Linked DNA regions of Homo sapiens: region 2 is linked to region 1. Evidence: fine-mapped expression QTL. Tissue or cell type: whole blood. Region 1 holds a variant in brackets; the other region holds the start of a gene. All regions are shown on one strand. Distances are from middle to middle.

What was found. PIP is the estimated chance that this variant, and not a neighbour inherited with it, causes the effect.
Region 2: CORO1C starts here. The variant in region 1 is fine-mapped to the expression of CORO1C in whole blood (INTERVAL, PIP above 0.99).

What each region holds. Positions count from the first base shown.
Region 1 is chr12:108,672,425-108,680,527 of GRCh38, reverse strand. It overlaps CORO1C (coronin 1C), which reads left to right. Exons shown (of 11, transcript NM_014325.4): 3 at 2,134-2,256. Among named protein-coding and RNA genes, the nearest start is that of MIR4496, 41 kb to the right of the region's middle. The variant G/C (reference allele first, on the strand shown) is at 3,410.
Region 2 is chr12:108,727,745-108,735,841 of GRCh38, reverse strand. CORO1C (coronin 1C) reads left to right here and starts at 4,324. Exons shown (of 11, transcript NM_014325.4): 1 at 4,324-4,413. LOC105369969 (a long non-coding RNA gene) reads right to left here and starts at 2,433. Exons shown (of 3, transcript XR_945328.4): 1 at 2,390-2,433. RefSeq lists enhancers at 740-1,241, 3,650-4,453 and silencers at 4,066-4,575, 4,766-5,045.

The DNA of each region.
Region 1 (8,103 bases):
ACACTCTGGGCAGTCTGGTTCTCAACCATTTATACTTCGCTGCCTGTAAATGAACTGTGTGGCTCCTTCCTGTGACACCCAGATTCTATATGATATGGTGTTCATTGGAATTTCCTTTTTTGAAGTCCTTTTTTGGTGATGCGTTTTGGAAGATCCAAACTGGGTTGCAAGGGAAAGTGGAGGAATGTGAAGAAACCTAGGCCTTAGGTCTGTAAACAGGGCCATATTCAGGCCTCAACTTAGAACTTACCTTTCCCAGAAGAAAACCTCTCCAGAGACTGTGACCCCACAAACCTGCTTGAATGTCTTCCTTCTCTGTTCCTATGTGGCACCATAATTGGCTGTTTAAATGTCTCTCTCCTCTCACTGGGCTCCACATTTAGCCAGGACAGGACTGCCTTGTTCACGTCTGTATCTCCAGCACTCAGCACAATGTCTGGTCCATAAAAGTTCACAACACATATTTGTTAATTCTTAATGATGGAGTAAATTATTGTACTAGAAGAACTAATAATGTGACAGCTTTTATTGGATATTTTATTCCAGATACTGTGGTTAATTTTTTTACTTATTTTACAGATAATTGTAATACTGAATTGTGATTTATCTAAAAGTGTTCTCTCATTTAATCCTTACGGTAATTGTGGGAGTTAATAAGTATCATTGTTAACTATTTTACAGATGACGAATGAGGTGAAGCTTAGAGAGATTACATGACTTGTCTAAAGTCACCTGTTTAATCAGTAGAGCCTGGATTTGAACCCTTACCTGTCTTATTCCAGAGCCTGTGGTCTTTACACGTTAACGTTCTGCTTTCCTGGAGATTTGCACAGTCAAGTCAAATTGGAGAAATCATAGAAATTTCTGTTCTTGAAAAATTGCTAAGAAGCCTGCTCCAGTGTTGGGATGATTTGCCATATAAGAGCAAAAACAACAAAAAATAGATTAAGCCATACATTGCAGTGGTTCCTTTCTGTGCACCTGCTCTTAAAGCATACACAGCTTCAGCGTGGACTGGCATTAAGCTATTTTAAAAAGGAAACCACTTTCATATACCCATTGTTAACAATAGCAGTTGTCTTAGTTGACACAAAATTGGTCTGATAACCCTGGTTGGTTTGCTAGATTCAAATGTGTGACATGAGCAAATTGTGGTAGCTATTTATGACCAACATTAAGCATTTTATTCTTAATCAGATGTGGAACTGGCTAATGGGTGAGGTCTAAGTTGGTGTTAACTAGATTGTCTGGCTGGCATTTCTGTTGATTGAGGATAGCAGAGAGACTGAGACATTACAATGTAGTAGGCTCTTTAGGCCCTAATGATAGCTAAAGCTTTTCTTTTTTTTTTTTTTTTAACTTTTTAAATTTCTTTTTTTTTTTCTTTTTTCTTGTTTCTTTTTTTTTTTTTTTTTTTTGAGACAGAGTCTCTCTCTGTCGCCAGGCTGGAGTGTAGTGGCACGATCTCGGCTCACTGCAACCTCTGCCTACCGGGTTCAAGCGATACTCCTGCCTCAGCCTCCCAAGTAGCTGGGACTACAGGCGCACACCACCACGACCAGCTAATTTTTGTATTTTTAGTAGAGGTGGGGTTTCACCTTGTTGGCCAGGATCTCCTGACCTCATGATCCACCTGCCTCAGCCTCCCAAAGTGCTGGGATTATAGGCGTGAGCCACCGCGCCCGGCCTTTACATTTTAATAGTGCCATTCATTTCCAGAACTGGTAATTTATATATTGGAGGATATTGTCTTATTGTATTAACATTTTGAATAATACCAAGGTTTAGGGTTTTTTTTTTTTTTTTTTTAAGCCATGGAACATCCTTTTAATTTACAATTTGGCTATTTAGAATTGTATTTTGGCAAAAAGACTTTCATATTCTCTTTTGCTATGTCTGCTAGTGCAGTTGGTTACATCTTTTTGGTTCTAGGGATTTGGATTCTTGTAATTTGATCGCATGTCCTTGGTAGTGGCTTTTTCTAGAAGTGAAAGTTGATATTGACTATACGATGTCATATCTAGAAAATTGAGAGTTTTGGGTGGAGGTAATAAATGAGAAATGGGCCTGAGAAAATGTATAACGTCTGTGGTGTTGATATTACATAATAGGTTTGTTTCTCTCTTCTTTCAGACTGGTCGAATTGACAAATCTTACCCTACAGTATGTGGCCACACAGGACCAGTGCTGGACATAGACTGGTGCCCACATAACGATCAGGTCATTGCCAGCGGTTCAGAGGACTGCACGGTCATGGTAAGCTCCCAGGGTGTTGTGTGCACACAGGCCAGTGAGACTCACCTACTGCTTTCAAAAGCATGTGTGTGGGTGTGTGTGTATGTATAGAGGCTTGAAAAGCAGAACGTTATAGCAGTTTTGACTGTCTGTTGGATTTTACAATAATTTACTACGTTTAAGTTTAATTACAGATAATCCTTTCAAGAAGCCCTTAAATCAAAAAGGTTGTACTGCAGTGTCTGCCGTGTCTTTCTTTTTCTTTTTTTTTTTTGAGATGGAGTCTTGCTCTGTCACCCAGGCTGGAGTGCAGTGGCATGATCTCGGCTCACTGTAACCTCCGCCTCCCGGGTTCAAGTGATTCTCCTGCCTCAGCCTCCCGAGTAATTGGGATTACAGGCATCTGCTACCACACCTGGCTAATTTTTGTATTTTTAATAGAGACGAGGTTTCACCATGTTGGCCAGGCTGGTCTCGAACTCCTGACCTCAAGTGATCCGCCTGCCTCGGCCTCCCAAAGTGCTGGGATTACAGTCTTTTCTGTGAGTGTGTTTGTGTATGTGCTTATTGACAGTTGACATGTTCTCTGTTGGAAGATTTTAGGGAAAGTAAAGTGACTTTTCAGTAATTCTGTAATGCCATTTGACCACATGAATTTCCCCTCGCCCCAAAAGGAGAGAAAAAACTGAAACTGCTGGCACAGACTGTACAAGACAGTGACGTAAGATGCCAAAGTTATGCAGATAAAATGGGATATGTCACAGGTGGTAAAAGAGTTTTTGCAATTGCTTGTTTCCAAGCTAATGGCAGAACTGTGTTCTGTCCAGTGGACCCTGGTTAAGAAAGTCCTTTTCATAAAGATATACAAACAAAAAACGTGAAAGGTGAATTAAGTACTTTACATTCCCTCCTTTAGTTTCCAAAAGTAGGTTATGTGTGAAACAAGGCTTTGGAATACTTTTTAATATGATTTCTTGTCCTTAGTTATGATTTTTAACTTTAAAATGTGATTATTGGTTTGGATCAGTTTTTAATGCTAGCCCAAAGTAGGCTGAAAAGGTTAGGCATAAACACAAATGGGAGTACTTGCTGCCCCTGAAATAAGGGAAGATGGTCTCTAATTAATTTGTAAGCAGTCTCGCACATGTCAGGTAGTCTCGCACGTGTCAGCATT[G/C]GAGAACCATGCTACTTTTATTTTCCTCTCTATTGGCTGTGGACTGAAACATTGTTTGGAAAGCTTTATTAATTAAAATTATTTTACATAAATACAAATTAATTCCTGAACTGTGTCATTTAAACATTTACCCGCTTTTCCTCATGGGCTTTTGGCTGGGAATGTCTCCTCCTGTGATCTCATAATTTTGGCAGCTAAAGCATATTAAGGAAATACGCTGCTGTGAAAGGGAATTGTTCTGTTTAATGTGCCTTGCTAAATTGATCATTTTAATGGCTATGGACGCATTTTGTTAAGAGAAAGGAATATCGTTTAGACCTGATGCCAGAATTTTTTTTTTTTTTTTTGGGATGGAGTCTCACTTTGTCACCCAGGTTGGAGTATAATGGCGTGATCTCAGCTCACTGCAACCTCTACCTCCCAGGTTCAAGTGATTCTCCTGCCTCAGCCTCCCGAGTAGCTGGGATTACAGCCCTGCGCCACCATGCCTGGCTAATTTTTATGTTTTTAGTAGAAACGGAGTTTCATCATGTTGGCCAGGCTGGTCTCGAACTCCTGACCTCAAGTGATCCCCCCGCCTCAGCCTCCCAAAGTGCTGGGATTACAGGCACGAGCCACTGCGCCTAACTCTGATGCCAGAATCTTAAACGGAGAGTCTGAACCTCTTTTGAAGAAGCAGGTTTGATCCATCTCTGGCTCTCCCTGTCTCTAGCATTACTGGTCACGTTATCCTTTTAAAAAAAATAGTGTGTATTATAAAACAGAAAAACACACCAAATAGTTAAGTGAAAAAGCAGACTCAGGGAGTTAAGTGATTTATGACATAGCGAACACCATGAAACCACCTTCCATGTCAAAAAGTAGAACTTTCCCAACCTCCTCAGACTTCTCCATGTGCCCCATCCCAGTCACAACATCCCTCCTCCCTCTCAAAGTAACCACTCTCCTGACTTTTGTAATACTCATTTCCTTGCCTTTCTTTGTAGTGGTAATCACTCAGGTGTATACCTCTAGACTCTAGATTGGTCTTGCCAGTTTTAAAAACTTGATATGTAGTCTTTTAAGTCTTAATCTAAAGATTCCTCCTTCATCATTTTCTTTTCCCTACAATTTATCTATTCGGAAGCCCTGACCTTTGACCTGTGCTTTTCAACCATCTGGATTTTGCTGATTGTACCCTCATGTTGCAGTTCAGCTTGCTCCTCTGTCCTCTGAATTTCCTGCAAATTGGCAGCTGGAACCTGAAGTGCGGTCAGATTCAGGTTCTGTCCTTTTGGCTAGACTATATTGTTCGCATTATGTTCTTCCATACGCTAGGAAGCACATGATGTCACAGTGTCTGGGTTTCATCCTTTTTCCATTTGTGTATTCTGTGCCTATATCCAGTCATTCACTAGGGGTTGCAATATGGTGACAGTAAATTCTGTCATTTTGTTTTCAATTTTTAGCTGGTAAAATTTTATAAGATAATGTCCTCACTTACTTACTATTTAGTTACCAAATAGTATAGTTCATTTAGGAAAGCAGGATAAGTGCTTGATTCTTTCCTTTTATTTACCTAGTTCTCAAGATAATGAATTGATTCTCTGTCATCCTCAGAAGGTGACAAATTAGGGTTTTTTTTTCCCCGTTCCTTTCATTTTGAAGTCATGGATTTGAACATATTTGATGGGTTCAATCCATTATAATTCTTATCTCAAAGCCGACTTTCTCGCCTTTTCCCATTGAAACCTCTTCAAGATTTCTGAGTCCTTTTGAAATGACCATCATAGTCTTTGAGTCTTTGATAGATAGATTCCTTGCTATGTGATATGTTGAGGTGTTTCAGGCTCACTTTGGACATCCCTGCCCAAGCCATTTCTTTCGGAAGTCCTGGTTTATTTTAAGGGAAAATTATATCTATTAAGTATGCAGTAGCATTATGTATATATATATATACATTTAAAAATACTGTATTACCAAAGAGAGTGTAATCTTTTTGCTGTGGAGGGTTTCCCCTCAGTGTTGATGGCTGCTGACTGATGAGGGTGGTGGTTGCTGAAGGTTGGGCTGGATGAGACCACGACAATAAAGTTTGTCATACTGATTGACTTGGCCTCTCACAAAAGCTTTCTCTGTAGCATGTGATGCTGTTTGATAGCATTTTACCTGCCATAGAACTTCTTTCAAAATTGGAGTCAGTCCTCTCAAACCCTTTTGCTGCCTTATCAACTAAGTTTATGTAAGTAATATTCTAAATGTTTTGTTGTCATTTCAACAGTGTTCACAGCGTCGTTACCAGGAGTACATTCCATCTCAAGAGACCATTTTCTTTGCTTATCCATAAGGAACAACTCCTCATCTGTTCAAGTTTTATCATGAGATTGCAGCAATTCACTCACATCTTGAGGCTCCACTTTTTATTCTCTAGTTCTCTATTTCCACCATATCTACAGTTACTTCTTCCACCAAAGTCTTGAACTCCTCAAATGTTGATATTTAGAACTCCTTCCACGAATCATGAATTTTCTTAATGTCACCTAAAATGGTGAATCCTTTCCAGAAGGTTTTTTTTTTTTTTTTTTTTAAATTGAGACGGAGTCTCGCTCTGTCGCCCAGGCTGGAGCGCAGTGGTACGATCTCGGCTCACTGCAACCTCCGCCTCCTGGGTTCAAGCGATTCTCCTGCCTCAGCCCTCCGAGTAGCTGGGACTACAGTCATGTGCCACCATGCCCGGCTAATTTTTTGTATTTTTAATAGAGATGGAGTTTCACCATGTTAGCCAGGATGGTCTCCATCTCCTGATCTCGCGATCCGCCCGCCTTGGCCTCCCAAAGGTGTGAGCCACCGTGCCCAGCCCAGAAGGTTTTTAATTCACTTTGCCCAGATCCATCAGGGGAATCACTATCAGTGGTAGCTGTAGCCTTATGAAATGTATTTCTTAAATAATAAGATTTGAAAGTCAAAATGATTCCTTGTTCCAAGGGCTGCAGAATTGATGTTAGCAGGTGAAAACAACGTTAATCTCCTTGTACATTTTCATCAGAGGTCTTGGGTGATAAGGTGCATTGTTGGTGAGCAGTAATATTTTGTAAGGAATCTTTTTTTTTCCTGATCGGTGGTTCTCAATGGTGGGCTTAAAATATTCAGTAAACCATGCAGTAAACAGATGTGCTGTCATTCATGCTTTGTTTTTCCATTTCTAGAACATAGAGTAGATTTAGCATAATTATTTATTTATTTATTTTTTATTTTATTATTATTATACTTTAAGTTTTAGGGTACATGTGCACAATGTGCAGGTTAGTTACATATGTATACATGTGCCATGCTGGTGTGCTGCACCCATTAACTCATCATTTAGCATTAGGTATATCTCCTAATGATTTAGCATAATTCTTAAGGGCCCTAGGATTTTTGGTGCGGTAAATGAGCATTGGCGTCAACTTAAAGTCACCAGCTGCGTGAGCCTCTAACAAGACAGGCAGCTCATCTTTTGAAGCTTTGAAGCCAGGCATTGACTTCTCCTCTCTAGCCATGAAAGTTCTAGATGGCATCTTCTTTCAGTAAAAGGCTGTTTCATCTACACTGAAAATGTGTTGTTTAGTGTAGCCACCTTCATCAATGATCTTATCCAGACCTTCCGGATAACTTGCTGCAGCTTCTCCATCAGCACTTGCTGCTTTCCCTTGTACTTTTATATAATGGAGATGGCGTCTTTCGTTAACCTCATGAACTAACCTCTGCTAGTTTCCAACTTTTCTTCTGCAGCTTCTTCACCTCTGTCAGCCTCCATGGAATTGAAGAGAGTTAGGACTTTGCTCTGGATTAGGCTTTGGCTTAAGGGAATCTTGTGGCTGGTTTGTATTTCTATCCAGACCACTAAAACAAGGCTGTTTTTGCTTTTTTATCATTCATGTGTTCACTGGAGTAGCACTTTTAATTTCCTGAACTTTTCTTTTGCATTCACAACTTGGCTAACTGGCTTAAGAGGCGCTTAGCTTTTGGCCTGTTTCAGCTTTCAACATGGCTTCCTCACTAAGCTTAATCATTTCTAATTTTTTATTTAAAGTGAGAAATGTGCAACTCTTCCTTTCACCCAAACACTTAAAGGTCATTTAGGGTTATTAATTGGCCTAATTTCAATGTTGTTATGTCTCAGATAATAGGGAGGCCCAAGGAGAGGAAGAGACAGGAATACAGGAAGAGCAGGTGGTGGAGCAATGAGAAAACACACAGCGTTTATCGATGAAGTTCACTGTCTTATATGAGTGCAGTTCATAGTGCCCCGAAACAATTACAGTAGTAACATCAGACATTACTGATCACTGTAACAGATACAGTAATAACAAAAAAGTTTGAAATCCTGCAAGAATTGCCAAAATGTGACACAGAGACAGTGAACATACGCTGTTGGAAAAATGGTGCAGATAGACTTGCCTTAGGGTTGATAAAAAGCTTCAATTTGTTTAAAAAAAAAAACAAAACAAAAACACCACCACAATATCTGTGAAGTGCAATAAAATGAGGTATGCCTGTATTTACCTAACCTCTTTAATATTAATTACATCTCCATCTCCTTTCTTTCACACAGAGAATGCAGGGTCTTAGGGATACAGAAGAAGAATTAGAACATCCTGATCTATCTCATTTGTCTTTTCACGTTATACATGTAATAGTCTCAGAGTGAAAATACTAATACCACCACCATACCA
Region 2 (8,097 bases), 55 kb before region 1:
TATTTGTTAATGCTTCCACAGGGTAATTCACTGAGCTTCTAGGTTGCCCTAGCAACCTAAAACAAATGTCCCCATTTGGTACTCAGAAAAAATAGAAAAATGATTTGCTAAGGAGCCTCTGGATGCTGGGCCCACAGTTCTTTCCACTTCATACATAAGCTGGCATCTATATCATGTGTGGTCTGGAATCATTTTTATTTTTCCTGATCATTAAATTCCTCTCCATCTAGCACCTGTCTTAAGCCACTTTAGAAATCACCAGCTTTTGAGAGCAGGAAAAAACTCTTAAATCCAGCATCTCACCTGGACTTGGATCCCTCCCTTTAGGGCCAGCTTGGACAGAGCCAAGGTTTCTTTCAGGCCCACAAAGCAATTGCTGTAGGTTCAAGAACAATGAGATGATGGGGCTTTCTCCCAGCAGAGTTATGCAGTTTTCCTGTTTCTGGAAGTAAGCAGCTCTCAGCTGACCACATTTGGGATAGGCATGGAGTGAAAGTGAGGTGGCATTGCTTCTGGCATTGGGTGCTTCCTGTGCAAGAATCACCTCCTCAAATGCAGGGCTCAAACCAGGAACTGAAAGAGGCAGTCAGAAGATGAAGGCCTTGGGATCTTTCGTAGCATATTCCATGGCTGCTTTTTGGCGGTATCATCTGGCGGGGGGAATTCTTCTAATTTCATCATTATCATTTCATCACTTCTAACTTCATCATTTATCTATGATCTCATGGAACCCCAAGATTTTTTTATTTTTATTTATTTCTATTTTTTTTTTCAGAGTCTCACTCTCGCCCAGGCTGGAGTGCAGTGGCGCTATCTAGGCTTACTGCAACCTCCACCTCCAAACTCGAGTTCAAGCAATTCTTCTGCCTCAGCCTCCCAAGTAGCTGGGATTACAGACGCGTGCCACCATGCCTGGCTAATTTTTGTATTTTTAGTAGAGACGGGGTTTCATCATATTGCCCAGGCTGGTCTCGAACTCCTGACCTCAAACAATCCGCCTGCCTCAGCCTCCCAAGTGCTGGGATTACAGGTGTGAGCCACCACTCCTGGCCGGAACCCTGTGATTTTTAAACATCAACATGTTTTAAAACAACTATTTTGTGCTGGGCACTGTGTTGGGTGCTTTGCCACGTCCTAATTCATTGAATCTAAACTCCTGAATATTCAAAACCACTTCCTGAAGCATTTACATGATTCCCAGTGATATATAGGCAGAAGAATAGGGCTCAGCTCAGAGGGGAAGTGACTTGCTGAACGTCACACAATGAGTAATAGGTGGAGCCTGAATTTAAACCTAAACCGGCCAGAATCCAAAGTCCACGGTTTTTCTGTTCTGTCATGCTGCCACAGAGGCAGTTTAGTGTAATGACTAACTGGCTAAGGGTGCAGGCTCTGCATTTAGATGGATGTGGGTTCTACGTGGTTCAAGCCATGTGACTTGGACAAGGAATTTAACTTCTCTGAGTCTTCAGTTTCCTCACCTTTATAGGTGGGGATTAGGAGTCCCTTCTGGGCTGGGTGTGGTGGCTCATGCTTGTAATTTCAACACCTTTGGGAGGCCAGGAATTTGAGACTAGCCTGGGCAACAAAACAAGACCCCATCTGTACAAAAAGTAAAAATATTAGTGAGCAAAGTGGTGTGCACCTGCAGTTTTAGCTGCTTGGAAGGCTGAGGTGGAAGGATTGCTTGAGCCTGGTAGTTCGAGGCTGCAGTGAGCCAGATGGAGCCACTGCTCTCCAGCCTGGGCAAAAGAGTGAGACCCCGTCTCAAAAAGAAAAAAAAAAAAGAATTATTTCTGTGGCCATAGGATTGTTGAGCAATTTCAGAAGATTCTGCATGTAAAGCACTCAGATAGTGCCTAGCATGTCTAAGTGATGGATAAATGTTAGCAATAATCTGTTTCCAAAGAATAAGCTAGCTTACTCCGTGGTTTCCAGTTGGAACTCGGCCGGACGCGGTGGCTCACGCCTGTAATCCCAGCACTTTGGGAGGCCGAGGCGGGTGGATTACAAGGTCAGGAGATCGAGACCATCCTGGCTAACATGGTGAAACCCCGTCTCTACTAAAAATACAAAAAATAAGCCGGGCGTGGTGGCGGGTGCCTGTAGTCCCAGCTACTCGGGAGGCTGAGGCAGGAGAATGGCGTGAACCTGGGAGGCGGAGCTTGCAGTGAGCTGAGATCGCGCCACTGTACTCCAGCCTGGGCGACAGAGCAAGACTCCGTCTCAAAAAAAAAGGAACTCAAAGCACTTTACCAATCTTCATTTTCCCCAAAGCACTCAGAACTCACTGCTATCAATGCCCCTGTTTAATTTATTAACTAGTGGATTTTAAAAAAACAACTTTTATTGTTCAAAACTATTGAATTGTGGGCACAGTGGCTCATACCTGTAATCCCAACACTTTGGGAGGCCGAGGTGGGAGGATCTCTTGAGCTCAGGAGTTTGAGGCCAGCCTGGGCAACATAGCAGGACTTCATCTCTACAGAAAAATGTTAAGAATTTAGCTGGGCATGGTGGCGCGTGCCTGTAGTCTCAGCTACGTGGGAGGCTGAGGTGGGAGGATTACTTGAGCCCGGGAGGTCCATGCTGCAGTGAGCCGTGGACTGCCCCACTGCACTCCAGCCTGAGCGACAGAGCAAGACTGTGTCTCAAACAAACAAAAACAAGTGAATTGTTTTTGAGCCTCACCATATGGCAGGCACTGCAGTAGGCGTTTCATCACGTTTATCTCATTTAAATAAAGTGAGTGGCAAATCTTACTGCAGGAAGGGTGCTGAATTCCTCCTATTAGGAGTGGCTGCTTGAAGGCAAAATAAAACCCATCCTTTCATTTTGTTGAGTCCCAGCAGTAGCAGCAACAGGTACTGTCGAGCGTTTATCACAAGCCAGGAACTCTTCTAAGTATATTACTATTATCCTGGTGCAAAAGTAATCGCGGTTTTTGCCATTCCTTTTAATGGCAAAAAGTAATGCCACGATCATGGCTGCTAATATGATCTCATGGAACCCTGTGAGGGAGGGGCTGTTATCCCCATTTTACAGATAAAGAAACTGACCCTTAGAGAGGATAAATAATTTGCTGTGATAGCTGTCTTAGTTCAGGTCAAGCTTGATTTAAATAACACACGTTTCTGAGGCTGACGCTTAAAATAAAAAATCCCCCTGTGAATGGCAAAGATGCCTTGCTTTGGGAAGTAAATAGCCCTACCCCACAGTCGGTTCGGTTCCCCAGGCTCTGTTTCCTCAAATCTCGGTATTTCAGAGCTTGGTGTTTCAGAAAGGGACTTTAGCTATTAACAGGACAACTTCTTCATGCTGAAGATTAGGGGACTCAGGCCCAAAGAGGTAAGAGAACTGTCCCAGGTCACACAGTCTGACGGCCGCAGAGCTGAGGCTCAAATTCCCGTGCTCCGACTTTCAGGCCTGGGCCGCCGAGTTATTAAGGGACTCTGGCCAGGGAAAGGAAGGGAGGAACCCTGAAGTTTCCATTCCCTCACCTGCGAAATGGGGTCAATCACGGGCCCTCTTTGGGGTTACGTGGGTGTGGCCCAGCCCAGGGGCGGCCACTCTGCACTAGGAATGTGACAATGGACGGTTCAGGGAGGGCTGGAACGTCGGCAGTCCTCAAGGGAGGTGGTGGTAGGGTGTGACGGAGCCAGGGCGGAGCCTCGGGAGCCAGAGGCGTGGATTCGCGAATTCGGGGCGGGGCTTGGGGTTTAAACGTTGAGATGGGGTAGTGGGCGGGGCTTGAGATGCTAGGAATAGGGTTGCGGTCCTTGGGCGGGGCTTCTGGAAGACGGGGCGGGGCTTTGTGAGGCCGCTGGGCGAGTTCTGAAGCAGTGGGAGGGGAGCCGGGCTTAGGGAAGCAGGAGGCTGGTTTAAGGACTCGGATAGGCAGTGCGCGGGGCTCAGAGGAGCTAATGTTCCTGTATTGAGGGGCTCTGGGGGAATCTTTGAGGAGCCAGGGGACGTGGCCTTGCAGAGCCTAGCGGGTCAGTGGGCGGGGCTCTAAGAACCCCGCTCCGGGGTCTAAGGAGCAGTGGGCGTTGCTCGGAGGCGCCTGTGGGCGTGGCCCTCTACCACTCAGATGACTGGAGAGCGGGGCGTGCGCTTGGGCACCGCCTGCATCCCTCGGTGCGACCAGAGGGGGCGTAGCGAGGCGTGGAACGTGGGGTGGGAAGCGGGCTTCCCCTCCGGAAGTGGGCGTGGCGCACAGCGGCCCGGCAGCCCTGGTTGGGTCCCGCGCGGCGCGGGGGCGGGGCCTACGCGCGGTGGCGGGGGCGGTGGCGGCTGCCCGCGCCCCTCCCCCGCACGGCGCTCAGTGCCAGGCTGGAGGCGGCAGCGGTTGGAGGCTTCGCCCGGCTTTGCAGCGGGGACTTCGGCGGCGGCGCCTCAGGCACCTCGGCCCGGGTGAGCGGCTCGCGCCCGGCGGGGGCAGCCTGAGAGCGAGTCGGGCGGGCGGACCTGTCCTCTGAGCATGTGCCTGCGCCGCCTGACAGGAGCCGGCGGGGCGAGGGGCAGGGCTAGGTGGAGGGGACAGTGCTGGGTGGGCGCGCGGGGCGCGGGTTCACGGGCTGGGTTGCAAGGGGTTAGGGCCGGGGGCTGCTGTCGGGGGCTCGGGGAAAGGGAGTTGGGGACCGAACCAGGTGGCGTGGGGAGCGTGAAGCAGGGTCCCTGTGGGGAGGAGGCTTTCGAGGTCCGGAACGCTCCTGGCCGGGTGCGGAGCCGCGGGCCGAGGTGGGACGAGGCTGCCCAGGGAAGGCTTTTAGGGGTCAGGGATCGCCTGCTTGGGCGAGGTGCTGGGAGGGAAGGGCTGCTTCGGGCGAGGCGTAGAGCCCGGGGGCTCCAGGCCTGGGGACTGGGTTTGGGCCGCCCCAGGGAACGAGTGGGTGGGGGCGGGTAGGGGCCGGGCTCACGTGGGGCCGGGGCGAGCTGGGCCCTGCGTCGGGAGGGGCGAGGGCGGCCGCCTGGCCTGCGGGTTTCCTGGCTTTGGGTGCGAGACCAGCTCTGGGCCCTGCAGATCTCGGTTGGGGGTCAGGCGGGGCGGGGCAGAGCTGGAGCTGGAGTAATGTGGGTGGGGGCGGCTTGGGAAGAGGCTGAGCCCGGCCAAGGGAGCAGAGGGCTGGGACTGGCTGGGGGTTGGGAGGGGAGGAACGAAGCAGGAAGGCTGTCGGATCGGGGGCCCAGGGTGTCCGAGTGAACTGGGTGATTCAGAGGTGTGTTTCCCTAATAGCGGGGCAGCTGGCGAGGGACGCAGTAAAAAGGAGCGAGGTGCAGGTGGGGCCCCGCTGCGCCGAAATGACTGAGGATGAGGTCAGACGTGGAGGGTGGGAATGCAGAAACCGAGCTCTCCCGCCTGTCCCCACCGGCGCACGCTCCCCAGCTCTCCGTCTCTCAAATGATTTGAATGTGTTGGGGGAAGTGGCAGGCTGCGGTGAGAGCTGAGAAGAAAGGGGCTTCCTCTTGGAGGGAGGCGCTGGCCCTGGCATCCTTTTTTGGGAGTGTTCAAAGGATTTTGAACGCTGGAAAAGGAATCGTAGGCTTTACTGCATCACGATTTAGAAACACATCCTATATTTGGCCGTAATGTAGGCTGCCCTTGTTTTGTGGTGTCTAAAGTGCTTGCTCTACATGTTGCAAACGTGGGATTCAGAGTGCGAAGCAAATTGCAAGTTGTTCATTTCCCCCGGCATGGTAAGATACAAAGGCTTTTCCCTCCTATAAGACATTTGAAAAGAATTGAATGTAGTGCGCGTTTAATAAACTGGTCCTGGGTGGCGAATATATTTACTTTTGGAAATAGTTACCACAAAATATTAGGCCCTCTTACCGCAGCCTTTCTGCCTGGGATTACATTCTAAAACAGTACTTGTAGGGCTCTTAGTCACTCTATATAATAATGCATCTCATTGTCCTTATCTGGCAGAACGTTCTCCTGACACCAGGGCCTGCTGGAATAGACAGAAACATGATTAAGTATAAGCAGTTGCTTTGTACCGTCTGTTCAGTTGTGAAGGCAAATAGATACCTGTTTAATATTAATTCACTTTCTGCATTCCCTGTAAAACTGAAGAAATGTGCAAAATCTATTTTGGACTTGGTTCTATACATTTCAGATGATTTAAGGAAACTAGTATTTTTGGTTTGGAGGTATGTTTCACAGTCATAATGTTTGGCTATGAAGCATAATAGTAAACATTGGATCTGAGAAATCGCATAAATAAGTAGGGAAAAAAGTGAAATAAAACTGAGAATTGTGTTGTACCTTAGGTCTTGAAGTGCAGTGTTTCGTGGTGGAGGTTAGTCGTGTGTACTGAGGATTGGACAAAGATTTGGTATAAACGTCAGGAGCACACATTTTTGACAAATATAGAACCTATCTTGTCCATATTTATTTTGATTACTTGTGGAAGGTACATTAAAGCCTGATGAATTTTAATAGATACATACCGATGAAACATAACTGCACACAATATTGACTTTTTCATGATCCTTTGTTACTTTGCCTGCAGATTGTGCTAATCAGCATTTATACTTATTTATATATAGTTTAGGATTAGATTCGGTGTCAGTGAATAGCATTTTTTTAAACACCGTTGGATTTTTTGATAAAAGTTTTATGTTTAACTTATCTGTCACTTCTGGGATCCACTCCAACCATGAGGAAGAGAGTCACTCTAACGACTATGAGATGGAATGTTCAAAAGGATGAATATCAATTCTTAGTTATATAAGTGGGTATGTCGACGAGTCTCTTCTTTATGATGGCAAAATTTTAATTTCTCATATTTTGATTTGTCACAAACTGGTACTTTAGAAACATATTATTAATTGGTCTGTTTTACCTTTGACCTCTTTTCCAGGGGTGGGGCAATAATAAATTTGAGAGCTACTTGCATTTTCAAGGTACAAATCCATGTGATAAAACCTCTTAAGCTTGTTTTCCATTTATGACTTCTCTGTGTTACTGTCTCCTTGAATTATGAAAACTCTTTTCTGACACTTGTATGTCTTTTTAAACTTAAGATACCTTTTCTGTATTAAAACAGAATTCTTCATGAATATTTCAGTATGACCTAGTACCTAGAATGTTAAGTAATAGAATCTCTCTGGGTTTTCTTTGCCCTAGTTCAGATCCTTTAAAGTGAGTGAACAAGATTCTGTACTCCTTTCTGAGTACTTTGTATTTCTAGAGTGCAGAATGGAACTTTTTTTGTTTTATAACAGCTTCATTGAGACATACTGTACAGTTCACCCGTTTAAAGTGTACAGTTCTGTGGTTTTTGGTATATTCACAGAGTTGTGCAGCTGTCACCACAGTCAATTTTAGAACATTTTCATCCCCCCCAAAAAGAAACCCCATACCCCTTAGAAGTCCTCCCGTTTCATGTAAATGGAATCATACACTATGTGGTCTTTTGTGTCTTGCCCTTATTTAGCATATTTTCAAGGTTTATATGTGTGGTAGTATTGTATAGTACTTCATTTTTTTTTTTTAATGGTCAAATAATATTCCATTGTTTGGATATGCCGTATTTTGTTTATCCATTCATCAGTTGATGAACATTTGGGTGTTTTTCCTTTTTGGCTATTATGAATAATGCTGTGAACATACGTTTTCATTTCTCCTGAGTATTTACCTAGGAATGTAATCGATGGGTTGTATGGTAACTCTATATTTAACTATTGGAGGAATGGCCAGACTTCTCCAAAGCAGCTGCACCATTTTACGGTATTCACCAAGAGTATATGAAGGTTCTAAATTCTCCACATTCTTGCCAACACTTGTTACTCTCTGACTTTTTGATTCTAGTCATCTGTGTTTCCCTAATGGCTAATGATGTTGAGCATCTTTTCATGTGGTTGGTGAACATTTGTATGTGTAATCTTTGGAGAAATGTCCATTCAAATGCTCTGCCCGTTTTTTAATGGGTTGTCTTTTTATTGGTGTTATAAAAGTTGTTCATGTATTCTAGATTCAAGTGCCTTATCAGCTGTATGATTTGCAAAAATTTTCTTGGATTCTGACATGTCCTTTCATTTTCTTGATGGTGCCCCTTTTTAGGAACAAAGATTTTAAATTTTGATGATTTC